Linked DNA regions of Homo sapiens: region 2 is linked to region 1. Evidence: fine-mapped expression QTL. A gene starts in region 1. The other region holds a variant in brackets. All regions are shown on one strand. Distances are between the middles of the regions.

The links.
Region 2: its variant is fine-mapped to the expression of PDXDC1 in lymphoblastoid cells (GEUVADIS, PIP 0.95).

Annotation. Positions count from the first base shown.
Region 1 is chr16:14,973,709-14,976,621 of GRCh38, reverse strand. It overlaps PDXDC1 (pyridoxal dependent decarboxylase domain containing 1), which reads right to left and starts at 1,596. Exons shown (of 23, transcript NM_015027.4): 1 at 1,402-1,596. The coding sequence starts at 1,422. RefSeq lists an enhancer at 1,515-2,278 and a silencer at 2,436-2,730.
Region 2 is chr16:15,009,153-15,012,065 of GRCh38, reverse strand. PDXDC1 (pyridoxal dependent decarboxylase domain containing 1) reads right to left here. Exons shown (of 23, transcript NM_015027.4): 8 at 2,307-2,385. It overlaps MIR1972-1 (microRNA 1972-1), which reads left to right and starts at 1,669; the gene lies at 1,669-1,745. The variant G/A (reference allele first, on the strand shown) is at 1,356.

The DNA.
Region 1 (2,913 bases):
TAAGAACCACTCATCTGGACAAACTCAAAGTACCAAAAGGTAGACACCCTGCTAATCAGACGACCGGAAAGACTTTATTCCCAGCCAGGAAAACACGTAACATTCACCCCAGAGATGGCACAAGAAAACCATATTATCTTTTTCTTGTCTTCCACCCAATTTATGCTAAGCAACCCAGGAGTAGGCTATACCACTGTGAGCACATGAAGACATCTGGCCCAACCTTTACAATTATTGCCTTCAACTCTCCAGTGACAAGTGAACAAAATCTACAGCAGCTGCTGCCTTGAAAAAAGACAAAATATATTATTCCTACCAGCTCAAAATTAAAATGTAGCCGTCTTAAAACACGAGCATTGCTCCTGAATGCCACATGCATGAAAAACCGGGTATGCACTGGATTGGACAAGCAGACTCCCAAGCTGGAACAGACAGAAGGGCTTTGAGGGAGGGCAGAATGTCAGGTACCGAAAGCAGGAATCCGTGAAGAAACCCAAACTGGTTTCCATTTACAAGCCCTAACACTGGGACAATGAGAATCCGTTTCACATGGTAGAGCAGTCAGCCTGGTACACCACGCTGCCGTTCCCCCAAGGGGAAACCAGAGGTAGGCTCTGTTACCAGTGGATTTCGAGTTGACTCGGGGATCCCTCCTCGCCACTGGAATGGGGGAGCCAGGAAGTTGTGGAGCAGCTGCGATCCCCAAAACTCAATTCGCAATCTACGCAACACCCACCCCTTTCTGGAACTCAGAGGTTCTCGCCCGGTGATCGCAGGCTCAGCATCAGAATCACCTGCGTGGGGCGGAGTGGGAGCGGGGCGGTGGCGGTTAAACACGCAGTTCCCGGTCCCGCCCCCAGAGGTTCTGACCCCGGGACTGAACCTCCGCATTTTACCAAAGGCCCCAGGTGATTCCCACTCAGGCTGAAGTTGGAAAACCACTGCTTTGGCAATTTTCATTCCTAACTCGGAGACCAAGAAAAACCTACAGGTTTGCAGCTGGCTCTGAAATAACTGCGGCTTCTTTCCGGGAGCATCTGGGGCCGCCAACGGAGAGCTCCCGGTCCTCCGAAAGGGCCAGCCGAGCTCAGGCCGGCCACTCGCGGAACCTCGGCAGGGCCCAAGGTCGGCCCCGCGGTCCCAGTCCTGGGCTCCGGGCCCGTCGCGGCCCCCACCGAACCCCGCCCAGCCTCTTCGGCCCACGGGGACCCAAGAGACACCCGGCCCCGTGACGCGCCCGGGCCCCAGCCGCCCTCCCGGCGAGGCCTCCTCAGGCAGGGCCTGTCAGCCCGCGTCCCCCTGTCCGGGTCACAATGGCAGCTCGCGACTGGGAAACAGTTGCCTCGGAAGCGGGAGCCCCGGGCCGCAGCACCGTCCCCATCGCCCCCTCCCGGCACGGACCTTCTCCAGGGACGCGTCCATGGCTGAGGCGGCCGGTGGTGGCCTGGCGGTCCCGGGCTCTACTTCCTCCTCCCGCGCCCCGCAGCTCCTTCCACGCTGGCAGCGCTGACGTCCCCCGCGCCCGCGGCCGGCGGGGCGGAGAAGAGGAGGAGCTGCCAGGCGGCGCCGCGGGCTGCCGAACCTGATGGTTGAGAGGCGGCGGGGCGGGGCCCCGTAGCGCTGGGCGGAGCCCTCTGGGATTCCGTACCTGGGCGCCACGCCGGCCCTCCCTAACGTGCGCAGGTGAAGGGGGGAGGATGCCCGGTGGATTGTTCACCAAACTCTTTCCAGCAGCCTGTTGCAATCATCAAGGTAGAAGTATAATAATCACAAAGTACTATTCATGGAGTGAAAGGCTGGAAATACTAGTGACGCACCTCACTTCCGGGCCCAGGCTTCCAAGTCTCCCGCCTCACCTCCCGCCGGCATCCCTCGAGAATGGAACAGGCCATTCGCCAAGGAGGCGGTGAGCGAGTGGGCAACCTTGCGCATGCGCAGGACTCGCAGCGTCCTCGGCGCCCGGGGACTTGGGGGTTTTGGGGTTGGGGGCTGCTTAGTGAACGCTGTTCAGAGAAGGCACTGATCTAAGCTGAGGTGTTGTCTCAGACCTTACCGCCGAATTCTAGACGGAAAAAATTGTTGTAACAACCGGTCCAGCCTCTTTCATGTCACAATTATCACTTGTCAGGTAATGGGTAGTAGTAATAATGATAATATTAATACATCAGCTGCTGTTCTTCCATTTTCCTATTTCAGCAGCTCTAGGAGATCATTATCCCCATTTCGCAGTGCCGATCTAGGTAGGATTCAGACCCAAGCCCCATGAGTCCACATACTGCTTCCACTCCTACTTTACTTTAAATGTTTTAAAAAGTTAATTTTTTATTAATTTTTTTATCTTGTTAACCGATGAACTGAAGAGAAAAAAAATTAAAATCTCATTTTAATAGAGAAGGTAGGGGTGTCTCACTATGTTACCCAAGCTGGCTTCAAACTCCTGGCCTCAGGCGATCTTCCCGTCTCAGCTTCCCCAAGTGCTGGGATTACAGGCATGAGCTACCACGCCCGGCCACTTTTGCAATTTTACTGCAATGTGTTTCGAACGAATGGGGAGGGCGTACATTTGCTTAGTAGATTCCTCCCACCTTAATGTGGGAAACTGATATAGACTACCACAGTGGCAATCAATGGAACACTTCACCTCTGCGATGACGCTACAACCACAATCTTACTCCTTTTCTCTCCTGTTTTATACTCTTCGTCCCGAAATCTGTGTAAACAGGGTCACATTTTCAGCGCAGTAACTCCATGTTTTGAGCTATCTACGTTGTATTTGGTAAATTGCCTGGTTATGTTAATAAAATTATTTTCTACCAAAAAACCCTTGTGTGCTGGTTTAGACTGTACTGTGGGGATTATTCTGACTCTCTAAAGAGCTTTCCAAACAGAAGGAAAGATAGATTTATGTCTTTC
Region 2 (2,913 bases), 35 kb before region 1:
TATATTTTAGATACAAGTTCTTTGTCAAACAAATGTTTTGTAGCTTCTGGGGAAAAGAATGAAAAAGAAATTTTAAAAGAAGACAGGACTGGGACAGTGGCTGGCTGAGTGTGGCGGCTCACGCCTGTAATCCCATCACTTTGGGAGGCCAAGGCAGGTGGACCACCTGAGGTCAGGAGTTTGAGACCAGCCTGGCCAACATGGCGAAATCTCGTCTCTACTAAAAATACAAAAATTAGCCCGGCACGGTGGCGTGCGCCTGTAATCCCAGCTACTCGGGAGGCTGAGGCAGGCGAATCGCTTGAACCTGGGAGGCGGAGGTTGCAGTGAGCCAAGGTCGCACCACTGCACTCCAGCCTGGGCAGCACAGCAAAACTCCATCTCAAAAACATAAAAAATAAAAATAGAAAAAGACAAAAAAAAAAAAAAAAAAAGAAAAAAATGTTTTGCAAATATTTCTCCCAGTCTGTAACTTGCCTTTCATCTTCTTAATAGGGGCTTTCAAACAGCTAATGCTTTTAATTTTTGATAAAGTACAATTTATGGTTCACATATTTTGTATCCTAAGAAATGTAACCTAAGGTCACAAAGATCTCCTGTATTTTCTTTGAGACATTTTATTGTCTTAGATCTATGCTTAGGTTGATGAACCATTTATAGTTAATATTTATATATACAGAGAATAAGATAAGGGTTAAGATTCAGTTTTTTTCCATATGGATATCCAAGCTCTAAGACCACTGATGGAAAAAGATGGTCCTTTCTCCCTCGAATTACTCAGGCATCTGTAAAAACCTGAAGTGTCCATATACTTCACATGAGTCTATTTCTGAATTCTCTATTTTCTTTGGTTAATCTCACACAGTCTTACTTGCTACTTTACAGAAGTCTTGAAGTATGACAAGGTAAGTCTTCCAATTTTGTTCTTTTTCAAAATCCCTTGGGCTGTTCCTAGATCCCTTGTATTTCTATATAAACTTTAGAATTAGCTCATCAAGTTCTATTAAGAAATTGTAGCCTGCTGAGATTTTAAGATGGATCAAGTTGAATCTACAGATTAGTTTGGGAAGAACTGACTTAATACTTAGTCTTCCAACCCGTGTGTATGGCATATCGTTCTTGGGTCTTCTTGAATTTCTCTCAGTAACATTCTTAGTTCTCAATGTACAGATCTTGCATATATTTTGTTAAATTTATCCATAAATTTTTCATCTTTTTTGATCCTATTATAAATGACATTTAAAATTCAATTTCCAATTCTTCTTTGCTAGTATGTAAAAATCCAGAAAATGGTTTAGATTTGATCATTAGTTCCAGTAGCTTTTCTTTAGTTTTCTATCTATACAATCATGCCT[G/A]CAAACAAAGTTTTATTTCTTCCTTTCTAATCTGTCAGTTATTTTTTTTGCCTTATTGCACTGTCTTAGATTTCAAGTATGATGCTGAATGAGATAAATGGAGCAGCAAGTGGTAGTTGCTCTGCCGCCTATAAGGTAGATATTTAAGTGTGACATCTTATGAATTTTCTTGTTTAATTTTTACAACAATCTTACAACGTCAGTACAATTATTTTTATTTATTTATTGAGATGGGGTCTTGCTATGTTACCCAGACTGGTATTGAACTTCTGAGCTTAAGCCAACATCTTGCTTGTCTCCTGAGTAGAGGGACTATAGGCATGTGCCACCACACCTGGCTTAAATGTGTCATTTAAAAATTCAGGCCAGGCACAGTGGCTCATGCCTGTAATCCCAGCAATTTGGGAGGCTGAGGCAGGCGGATCACCTGAGGTCAGGAGTTCGAGACCAGCCTGGCCAACATAGTGAAACCCTGTCTCTACTAAAAATACAAGAAATTAGCCAGATGTGGTGGCATGCACCTGTAATCCCAGCAATTCAGGAGGTTGAGGCAGGAGAAACACTTGAACCCGGGAGGCAGAGATTGCAGTGAGGTGAGATTGTGCTACTGCACTCCAGCCTGGGCAACAGAGTGAGACTCTATCTCAAAAAAATAAAATAAAATTCAGTTTAGAACAGGGAAAAGAAGTACATGAAGGAGAAGATAGAGAAGCATTTACCATCTAAATGAAAAAGTATACACACACATAAAATAACTTCCAAAACAAACCAACGATTAAAGAAAAATCTAACGAGCCAACCTTACTATTACAGTTTTTGCTACAATGTGGATATGGACTATCTTAAACATGTGGTACACACACATTTCTTAAGACTTTATCTTTTATAGGCTGAGGACGTAGCCTCGCTCCTATATATTCAAAATGGTAGATTCAGCATCATGCTACCTACCTGCATTTGCGACAAGCAACAGGGGCAGTCTTCCTCGCTCTATATCATCTTTAATCAGTTTCTCCAGGAAGGCAACATCCTGGAACCAAAACAAATCATTAAAAAATGAGGTGCCCAGTATAAAAGCTATAAAATGAAAAATTATGACTTACAAAAGAAGCAGATAACTCTCAAAAGTAATGTCAAATCAATTCTTACTCTTGACAATTTTTCTGTTTTCTCTCATCATAGATGTGAAAATCAAATAGTTTTCCTTGAAGACTAGAAAAATCAGTTAAACAAAATTAAAGGTAAAAACTGTACATATGCAGGAACATTTCTTTGATTTTAAACATTTACATTTAAATGAAATGTTCTCTTAACTCTCCTAAAACAGCCAAGAATGTATCTCTACTATTACTCACTGATGTACCTGAACTAGAAAATAAAACTACCTTGACAAAAGAAATAAAAAACTCTAAAATCCATCCCTTCCTTTTCCTTCTGGAATCATTAAGGAGAGATTTATCACCTGCATGTCTGAAAATAAGCAGAACTCAATTCCATGATGACAATGAAGAACCTCATTTTCAAAATCTGCCCATTCATAAATCCAGGCAACAGTGCT